Linked DNA regions of Homo sapiens: region 1 is linked to region 2. Evidence: fine-mapped expression QTL. A gene starts in region 2. The other region holds a variant in brackets. All regions are shown on one strand. Distances are from middle to middle. Region 1 has its middle 11 kb from the start of KRT77. Region 2 holds the start of SPRYD3 (SPRY domain containing 3).

Region 1 (5,376 bases), 360 kb after region 2:
GATGACTTTGGTCATGGAACTCAGGCAATCTGAGTCTCAGTTTTCCTTTTGTATAAGGTGGGGATAATAATGCCTTTCTCATCAAGTTGTTGTGAGGATGAATGAGATAAAACAGAGGGTCTGGTGCACAGCGACAGCTCAACAGACAGTAGCTACTGTTCTGGAAGACAGGGCTTCTGGTGTGGGGAGAGAGCACTGGGTCTGTATACGACTGTGCTCTGGTTTTTCCATTTGTGGTATGAAGGTGTTGAAGCAGGTGAGCCATAAGACCCCTTTTCTGAAAATGTGACTTTTCTGGACACAGTTGGGGGAGCAGCAGACCACGGCCAGCAGGCATGGGGATGACCTGAGGAACACCAAGAATGAGATCATGGAGCTCAACAGGATGACCCAGAGGCTGTGGGTGGAGATCGAGAGCATCAAGAAGCAGGTGGGGATGAGGAGGAAAAGAACATGACCAGGGCTGTGGGCTTATGCTTCCATCATGACACTCAGGCCTAGCACCTACGCAAAGCAAAATCATGCCCCCACTCACGTACACTAAGATTTCCTGGGTGATGTGCTGGGCTAGCGCTGAACTAAGATTGTTACGTGGATTTAGTTTCTGCTTCCCTGGAGCTTGAAGGTTGATATGGGATAGAAACTGAGTAAAGACATGATTAGGTGGTTGGAGAAAGAAGTTGACTGTTGAAGACTGAATTCGGGGAGTAGCCAAGGAAGCCCACATCTAGATGGGCTAAGGCAGAGAGAAGGTTTCTCTGATAATTCATGAAGACTTCCTGGAGGAGGGAAGTTTTCAGAAGATGCTCAGTTATTTCCCATAAAAAAGGAGAGAGGCACAGGAAGGGTCTGGCTCCTCCTGAGTTGGTATAGCCCCTTAAAGCCAGGTGTTTCTAATCCCACTCCCTGGTGTGCTAGGACCTAGATCCCAGCCCAGGCTTCTCTGCTGACCAGCTGCATAGCCTTTAACCCCTGTGCCTGGGGTTTCCTCACTTGCCCAACATCAGGTAACACACGTGCAAGCACCAAGCACACAGGACGGGCCGTCAGTGAATGACATTCGAATCTAAATTGGACTCCTGGCTCCCCACACTAAGAACGCCAAGCTGCAGATGACCATCGCTGATGCAGAGCAGCGCTAGGAGGTGGCCCTCAAGGACACCAATGCCAAGCTTCAGGACATCAAGTCTGGACTGCGGCAGGCCAAAGAGGACCTGGCCCTGCTGCTTTGTGCGTACCAGGCGCTGATGAATGCCAAGCTGGCCCTGGACGTGGAGATCGCCACCTACCGGACCCTCCTGGAGGGCGAGGAATGCAGGTGAGAGTCCGTCTGGTTCCCAGGAGGCCAGAGGCCTGGGGCTTTCCTGCCTGAGCGTGCTGCCAGGTGTGGGAGCTGTGCGTTCTGTGGGAGGTGGCGGTGGCCATTGGCAGGCACAGCCTCTTGTTCAGGGCTGGGAGATGCTGTCACACCAAGAAAGCTGTGCTTCCTATGCCATATGAACACGTTAGCGCCTTACCTGGAATAACGTCCTATGTTTTAGCTATACAGTGTATGTCTGCGAAGATGAAGGGTCATAGACATAAATGTTATTTCTAGACCATTTCTTTATTAATGCCTTAACTGCAAGTTTTTGAAGAGTGTGTTCCCGTACACTGGCACATGGGTATAGGGCTCTGTCCCATGTGGGTTCAAACAGCATTTGCTAAATGAAGAGTATCCTGAGGAGGTGGAGAGGATGGGTGGGTCCAGAAATGTTCTGTATCCTCTGGTCTGTATCCCTTTGGGAGATGTCAGTGGAAAGAGTAACACTTTAACCTTACCCAATAGAAAGAAGAATGTGTTTTATGATTTTCTGAGCACCCGTCCAGCTTATTTCTCACTCTCTACATCAATCAGGAGGGAATGGGGGTGGGGTGACCAAGGCTCTCCTTGCTGTTGACCTAAGGAAGGCCGTTTAAGGAGAGGGAGGAACTGAGCGAACTCTCTGGTTTTCCTCACAGGGTGTCTGGGAGGTGCCAGAGTTCCGTGATCCTAGGTGAGTATTGGGTTCTTTCTCCGGGAAGGGGCTGGAGGCCTCGGAATGCAGTTTCTCAAGCCATGTGCCAGCGCTGGTGCGAGGCCATCAGGCCTGCAGGCTGGAAGAGCTGTTGGTGGCTGTTTTGGAGGAACCAACCTCCCCTCCCCTCCTTGAAGCCTGTCCTCCCCACGCCTTGCCGGATCTCGGCGGGGCGTCACCCCGGGAAGACCTGCGGCTCGGGACTGTGGGAGGGGCTGGCGTGCCGGGCGGACACTGCCAGGCTCCCTGACCCCGACCGTCTTTGCAGAGACTGGCCACAGCAGCACTGGCGGCGGCTGCGCCCTGGGAGGAGGAGTCGGAGCCCGGGCCCGCGGCGGTAGCCGGGGCCGCAGCGGCTGGGGCTTGGGCGGGAGCTCCGCGGTGCTCGGGGGGCTTCTCTGGCTCCGGGACTCCTGCGCCGTCAGCCGGGGTGGCGGCGGCGGCGGCAGCAGCGCCGCCAGAGAGAACAAAG[C/T]TCCTCCTAGAGCTGGCGGTCCCGCCACAAATTCTGAACCCCGCGCCAGGGGCGTCCTCGGACCCCAGTCCCCTTCGCCCTCCGGCACGCCCCGCTCTGAGCTCCCCCGCACCCCCGCGGGGCCCCTTCCCTCCGCTGCTTCTGACCTGTGCCCCGGAGCCCCACCTTCCCAGACTGCTGGCATCGCAGCAGCCCGAAAGTTGCCGCGAAGGATGAGTAGGCGGTAAACCCTCAACGGCGGACTCGGCGGCTCATGCCTGTAATCCCGGCACTTTGGGAGGCGGAGGCGGGAGGGTCACTTGAGCCCAGGAGTTCGAGGCTGCATTGAGCTAGCATGGCACCACTGCACTCCAGCCTGGGCAAGTGAGCGAGACCCTATCTCTAAACAAACAAACAGAATCTGAAAAAACATCCACCCACACAAGGCAGTGGCCAGGAGCTGGGCCCCCATGTCACCACTTGTGCCCTGAAGGTGCCCTCACCCCCGCCAATGTCCCACTGCCTTATGGGACAGTTCCAATCGGCCCATTCCCCTCCCTGTAGGCAGGGCCTCCCCGGTCACCACTTCCTGCTGGTACTTTGATTTCCCGTCTTGGCTTCAAGAAAGGAATTCTCTGTTCTGTACAATCTTCGATAAAGTGCGTTGTGCTTCAGACATCATGGTAGAATTTTTATTCTGGTTTCCAGGTCATTGAGACTTTCTTTGTGGCCAGTGGGTCATTCACAGTCCCTTTCACACACACAGCTCTGGTCTGAGCTGGGAGGGGGACCCTGGGGAGGAAGTACTGAGAGTTCCCAGGCTGGAGGGGCAGGGCCTTTTCACCCAAGAGATACTATGGATGACATACATCAACCTTCCTAATTGTTCAGATTTGAATTCATAAACATTTCATTTTATTTGAAAAAAGTCGTAGGTTAGATTTCCTTGTTTTTCTAGTAATTCGAAATATGTATGAAATTATCCAGTAATCACAGCTAATTATAATCAAAGGAGTTGCTGGTAGTCAAACATTTTCAAAAGCAATTATAAAAATTCAAATGTTTTATGGCAAAAGTTATATATGCCAGGGATGTATGTTAACATGTTTGATATGATGTGGGGCGGAGCCTTCAAATATTGACAGTTATGAGAACAAAGAACTTCAAATGGTTTGGTAACAGGTCACCTCCACCCTCATCCCTACCCCTACCCCAGATGAGAGCACAGAATACAGGCAGATCCAGGAATACTTGGATAAAACAGAGGTTTGGTGCCGGATGTGGGGGCCCCTTGCAAATTAGGGCATGTGAGTGGGAGAAGTAAAACATAAGCAAACATGCAAAGGCATACGTGCATGGTGGCCTTCCTGGTAAAATGCTCACTAGTGTGGGGGACTGAGAAAGGTTGTCAGAGAAAGCAAGAAAGAGACAATTCTCCTTGATAACAGATCAGAGAAACTCTTAGCTAAGTACACAAAAAGCCAAGAGGGATAGCCAAAGGCTCACCACACTAGAAAAACAACACATAACTACAGCTTCAACAGAGAATGTTCCTGCTGTAGGGTGAAGCACTTATCTGGGATAGTCTAAATCAGAGAGCAGGAAGCCTGGGGACTGTCCACTGCAGTTTGCACTGGGAGGGGCTATGGCTTCACCTCTCAAAAACAAGCCCACTGTCCAAGGATTCTCTTTTCTCCACGCCCTCATTCTTTTTTTCTTTTTTATTATTATTATACTTTAAATTCTAGGGTACATGTGCACAATGTGCAGGTTTGTTACATGTGTATACATGTGCCATGTTGGTGTGCTGCACCCGTTAGCTCGTCATTTACATTAGGTATATCTCCTAATGCTATCCCTCCTCCCTCCCCCTACCACATGACAGGCCCTGGTGTGTGACGTTCCCCATCCTGTGTCCAAGTGTTCTCATTGTTCAATTCCCACCTATGAGTGAGAACACGTGGTGTTTGGTTTTCTGTCCTTGCAATAGTTTGCTGAGAATGATGGTTTCTAGCTTCATCCATGTCCCTACAAAGGACATGAACTCATCCTTTTTTATGGCTGCATAGTATTCCATGGTGTATATGTGCCACATTTTCTTAATCCAGTCTATCTTTGATGGACATTTGGGTTGGTTCCAAGTCTTTGCTATTATCTCCACGCCCTCACTCTTATCCTTTATCTTTTTGATATAGCCATCGTAACAGTTGTGAAGTAATGTCTCATCGTGGTTTTGATCTGCGTTTCTCTGATGGTTAGTGATGTTGAACACTTGTACACTGTGGGTGGGAAGGTAAGTTTGTACAGTACAGCCATGATGGAAAACAGTATGGAGGTTCCTCAAAACATTAAAAATGGAACTACCATATGACCCAGCAACTCCACGTCTGAGTATATATCCAAGGGAAATTAAATCACTATCTTGAAGAGATATCTGCACCTTCATGTTTACTGCAGTTTTATCCACAATAGCCAAGATATGAAATCAACCTAAGTGTCTGTTGATGGATAAATGGACAAAGAAAATGTAGAATATATACACAAAGGGATATTATTTAGCCATACAAAGGAGGAAATCTTGTCATTTGGAACAACATAGAAAAATGGAGGACATGATGCTAAGTGAAATAAGCCAGACATTGAAAGACAAATATTTTAGCTGGGCGTGGTGGCACATGCCTGTGATCCCAGCTACTTGGGAGGTTGAGGCATGAGAATCTCTCGAACCCGGGAGGTGGAGGTTGCAGTGAATATTTCAGCCTGGGCGACAGAGCCAAACCCTGCCCTGTCTCAAAAAAAAAAAAAAAAAAAAAAAGACAAATACCTTAGAATCTCACTATATGTGTAATCTAAGACAGTCAAACTCAT
Region 2 (5,376 bases):
AAACTGAGGCAGGAGAATCCCTTCAACCCGGGAGGTGGAGGTTGTAGTGAGCCAAGATTGCCCCATTGCTCTCCAGCCTGGGCGACAGAGTGAGACTCTGTCTCAAAAAAAAAAGTTTCAAAAAGCAGATTAGTGGTTCCTAGGGATGAAAGAGTGAGAGAGAGGGATTATAAAGGAGCATGAGGAAATTTTTAGGGATGATGATGATATGGTCACTATCTTGGGTGTGGTGACATTTTCATTTTCATAGGTATATAAGTAGCTTATCAAATTGTATACCTTGGCTAGGTGCAGTGGCTCATACCTGTAATCCTCGAACTTTGGGAGGCTGAGGTGGGAGGGTTGCTTGAGCTCAGGAGTTTGAGACTAGCCTGGGCAACACAGTGAGACTTCGTCTCTAATTAAAAAAAGAAAGGAATAAATTGTACACCTTAAATATATATGGTTTATTGTATGTCGGTTATATGGCAATAAAGTTGTTTATTCAAATACATGTAGACACCAAACACAAATTACCAACTGGGTCCTGAGCATGCCAATGGATGGAGAATTCGCCAAAAAGGTGAGCCCCACATCTGGAACTTAAAGGTGAGGAAATCCCGAGTGGAATCACCAACCATCAGTAACAGTTTGGAAATGCCTTCTTCTGCCATTTCTCTCCATGTCTGACCCTAGCCACCTAGCTAGTTAGTTTCTGGAATGAGCCCTGGTCTGGGATGAACATGACTCTGGCAGCCTCCTAAGATTGTCCCTCTCTGGCTGCCTTTGGGAAGAGCTGAGCTCAGTGTTGAGGTATTTTCATAACACAAGAAGAGGAGCGGAGGAGAAGCAATGAGGGAATCAAAAGGAGGTGGAGATGAGTTGGAAGGGTAGCTATTCAGAACTGAGTCATCCAGGGGCTGGAAGGGAGCTAAAAGAACACATACTTCAATAATTCTTGTTTAGGGATGAGAACACCAAGACCTTGACCTTTTAGTCACACAGAATTGGGGCTCTAATCCGGGTTTCTCTGTTTCCCATCTCATCTATTCCTATCACCCATTGCCGTTATGCCGAGTGGGCACTATTCACGGTATGCGAGCTGATGGCTTTCCTGGCACTCAACACGTTAGAGTACCTAGTGTGATAAGAATAGAATAGTCTGGGGTCTGAAGGAGCTCACAGTCTAGCAGAGACGGGTCTACACACACAAGTAACTCCAATAACGAAAGCAAGACGGTAATAAGTGTTATAAATGGCGGGGGGCGGTGGCTCACGCCTGTAATCCCAACACTTTGGGAGGCCGAGGTGGGCGGATCAAGAGGTCAGGAGATCGAGACCATCCTGGCTAACACGGTGAAACCCCGTCTCTACCAAAAATACAAAAAAAATTAGCTTGGCGTGGTGGCGGGCGCCTGTAGTCCCAGCTACTTGGGAGGCTGAGGCAGGAGAATGGCGTGAACCCAGGAGGCAGAGCTTGCAGTGAGCCGAGATCGCGCCACTGCACTCCAGCCTGGGCGACAGAGTGAGACTCCGTCTCAAAAAAAAAAGTATTATAAATGAGGTGCTACAGAGGAGAGGAATCTTTTCCGTCCAGAAGAGAGAGATATGGTGATGGGAAGGGAGCAAGGAAGTCCTCATCTAGGAGTCCAACCCCCCAGAATGGCAGGTAGGCACTCCCTAGTAGGTGTTCAATAAATATTCGTGTCTTCGTCCCTTCACATTCTAACCCCAGTCTAACTTTCCTTCAGCCTACCAAAGCCCTGTGTTCCTCCACAGAATGCCGCTTCGTGCCACTGTGCCTTCTGCATCCCCAGTTCTCTCCTCCTGGAATGGAATGTTCTTGCCAATAATGAGCGAGCGGTGCCATGAAACAGAGCTCGGGAGGGTACACAGCATAACAGTTAAGCGCGCAGGCTATCGAGGCCAGCCTTCGGCCCATCCGTAAAAAGGAGATAAGATTTATTTCATAAGGCTGCACCGTGGATTAAATGGACATTCCGGTAAAGCTTTTATTTCAGTCCAGCGCGGAAGGAGGGCTCAAGTAATACTCGCAACGTTTGTGCGAGCGTGGCCACCTTCTCCGCCCGTCCCGTCTCCCCGGCGCCGCTCAAGAGCCGCCCCCTGTCCGCCTCAGCGGCGCCCAGGCACCCAGCAGCGTCCGCGCTGCCACGTCGCCTTCGCTCACCCCAGCAACAGCCGGGTTGACCAGACCGGGGCCCTGAGCTGGGTACCCAGGGCACCGGGCCGCGCCCCACACCCTGCCTGCGCCTTCCGATTGGCTCCTGCAGGTGCCCGTCGTCAGAGGCCGTTGCTGATTGGCTTAGATGGGGGACGGGGCGGGCCTCTAGGAGTGAAGGAAAGGCGGGGACCCGGATGTGTGTGGTGGCGGCGGCCGAAGAGCTTGTGTGCGGAGCTGAGAGGCCTATGGATGAGGAGGACGCGGCGGCCCCGGTAGGCGGGGATCGGGGGCGGGGTCCCGGAGGCCTCGTATCTCCCCGGAGCCTGAAGCGGAAGGCGGGGGTCCTGGGCGGGGGCTCTGGGGCCAGGGGCGGGGCCCTGCGCTCTGGTCACTGGGCTTCTTCTGTTGCTGCACCCTCGGCCCAGTGCAGGGCCTGGGGAGACTGGGCGTAGGCACACGGATGGGCTGGGGCCCGGCTGCTCCCGGGTCTCATCTCAGTGATCAGGCCGTGCCCGGGGAGGAGACAGGGCCCAGTAGGGCCGCCACTCGCCGGTGCCAAGACTGTGGGGTCTGCGCAACCAGCATCTACCTGGGGTTGAGTCCTGGCTGAGTGCCCGGGAGTGGAATCTTAGGGCTGTCTGTCCCACAGGTGCCTACTCTTCTGGGCCACGTGGTGGGTTGTAGCTACTGCATAAGAGTCGTAATTTGCGTATTGGGATCAAATTCAGCCCAGCCAAGGCTTACTAAGCACCTACCGTGTGCAAGGCAATGTCAGGCCTCAAGAAAACCCCTGTCCCAGTGTTTAGGGAATGGGAAGAGAAGAGTACTTCACCTCTTTCTCACTTTTGGCTCCCAGGAAAAATCATTCATTCATTTATATGTAGGGACTGATGGTTGTTTAAATACCTGGATCATCCCACCCCCATCCATCGGCGCTGCTACCGACTTAGTGGATGTCATTTCTCATGTGAACTGCTGCAACAACGTCTGAATTGTTTGCCCACATCTGTTCTTGATCCTCTTGTGATCAGTTCTCCAACCAGCAGCTGGAATGATCTTTAGGAACTGATTAAGATCGTGGCTTTTTTTTTTTTTTTTGAGATGGAGTTTCTGTCACCCAGGCTGGAGTGCAGTGGGACGATCTCGGCTCACTGCAAACTCCACCTCCCAGGTTCAAGCAATTCTCTTGCCTCAGCCTCCTGAGTAGCTGGGATTACAGGTGCGCACCACCACGCCTGGCTAATTTGTTTGTATTTTTAGTAGAGATGGGGTTTCACCATGTTGGTCAGGCTGGTCTTCAACTTCTGACCTTGTGATCCTCCCACTTCGGCCTCCCAAAGTGCTGGGATCACAGACGTGAGCCACCAGGCCCAGGATCATGGCATTTTTTTTTCTTTTTTTTTTGAGACAGGGTCTTGCTCTGTCAGCCAGGCTGGAATGTAGTGGCACAATCAGAACTGACTGCAGCCTTGACCTGCCAGACTCAAGCCATCTTCAGTCTCCTTAGTAGCTGGGACTACAGGTGCATGCTGCCACACCTGGCTCATTGTTTTAATTTTTAGTAGAGATGAGGTCTCACTACGTTGCCCAGGCTGGTCTGGGTCCTGGCCTCAAGCGATCCTCCTGCCTCAGCCTCCCAAGGTGCTGGGATTGCAGGCATGAGCCATCATACCCAGCCAATCATGGCATTTCCTTGCTTACAACCCTCCAGAAATTTCCATCTTGGAATAAAATCCAGAGTCCTTACCATTTCATTGTCTGTAGGGCCATGATCTGACTCCTGCCTTATTCTCATCTTGTACATTCTCCCTCACATTCCCTATATACCAGCTGTCCATGCCTTTTTCTGTTTCTCTACCATGCCAGCTCTCTTCCATCCAAGGACCTGTGGCTGCCCTTCCTGCCTGGAATATGCCTGGCTTGTCATGCCTAGCTCCTTTTCAACTCAAATGTCACCTCCTCAGAGAGACCGCCTCTGTCCACTCTATCCACTGCCTCCAGATTCTTTATCATATCACCCTGTTCTTTTCTCCACTGCCTGAAATTATGTCTGTTTATTGCCTGTCGTGTCCACCTCCCAGCCTGTGAGAATGGGAATCCTGTCCATCTTGTTCACAGCTCCATCCCTAGCACGGAGAAAAGCACACAGAGTAGGTGCTTGGTAAATGTTTGTTGAATGGAAGAAAGAAGATGAGGGTTGTTGAGGTCAATCTGGGCAGCTGGCCTCAAGGCCAGTGCCTTCTCTACCTTCTGGGTCACAGAGGCTGAGGTGCTTTACCTAGGGCCCTGCTTTCTCCTCAATCCCCTTCTCCCCTTGGCAGGTTTGTTCTCATGAACAAGATGGATGACCTCAACCTGCACTACCGGTTTCTGAATTGGCGCCGGCGGATCCGGGAGATTCGAGAGGTCCGAGCTTTCCGATATCAGGAGAGGTTCAAACATATCCTTGTAGATGGAGATACTTTAAGGTGAGTTCAGGAGAATGCTTCCACATTTTCTTCTCTGTTCCAGATCTTAGAGAGGAAAGGGTTTTTTTTTTTTAACTTTTATTTTTTCAGAGAAGGGGACTGTGCACTGCACAGGGAAGGGCGATGCTCTTGACTCCAGAGGCCTTTCTTTTTCTTTTTTTTTTTTAAGACAGAGTCTCGCTCTGTCACCCAGGCTACAGTGCAGTGGCGTGATCTCAGCTCACTGCAACCTCCGCCTCCTGGGTTCAAGCGATTCTCCTGCCTCAGCTTCCCAAGTAGCTGGGATTACAGGCGTGCACCACCACATACGGCTGATTTTTTATATTTTTGGTAGAGACAGGGTTTCACCATGTTGGCCAGGCAGGTCTTGAACTCCTGACTTCAAGTGATCCACCCGCCCAGAGGCCTTTCTGAGTGGAGCAGTGTGTGCTGCTTCACCCTGCACTCACCTCTGCCTCTGTCACTGGGTGGCTCTGTCCTCATCCAGCAAGGAGGGGATCCAGCTGGGTAGGGGAAGGGATCACATCAGACACAGGAGGCTGCTGGGGTCTCAGAAGCTTCCTAGGTGCTTTGTTGAGAAGACTCCAGTGGGGTAACTGAGTCTTCTGCCACTGTCTCAGGGATTAGATCTAGTGAAGAGTGGCTGTTTCAGAGATAGTTGATTTCCTGTTTGGGGAAGGGCCATTCTATAGTGTACCCTGTCCACCAACTCCTGTATTTCCAGCCCCTTAGCTTGTGTGTGTTTCC

Evidence for each region. PIP is the estimated chance that this variant, and not a neighbour inherited with it, causes the effect. A credible set is the group of variants that fine-mapping cannot tell apart.
Region 1: its variant is the best candidate, but not a certain one, in a credible set for the expression of SPRYD3 in whole blood (GTEx, PIP 0.64).

What each region holds. Positions count from the first base shown.
Region 1 is chr12:52,711,519-52,716,894 of GRCh38, reverse strand. It overlaps the pseudogene KRT126P. Among named protein-coding and RNA genes, the nearest start is that of KRT77, 11 kb to the right of the region's middle. The variant C/T (reference allele first, on the strand shown) is at 2,530.
Region 2 is chr12:53,076,368-53,081,743 of GRCh38, reverse strand. SPRYD3 (SPRY domain containing 3) reads left to right here and starts at 2,354. Exons shown (of 11, transcript NM_032840.3): 1 at 2,354-2,433; 2 at 4,483-4,629. The coding sequence starts at 2,411. RefSeq lists a silencer at 2,374-2,653.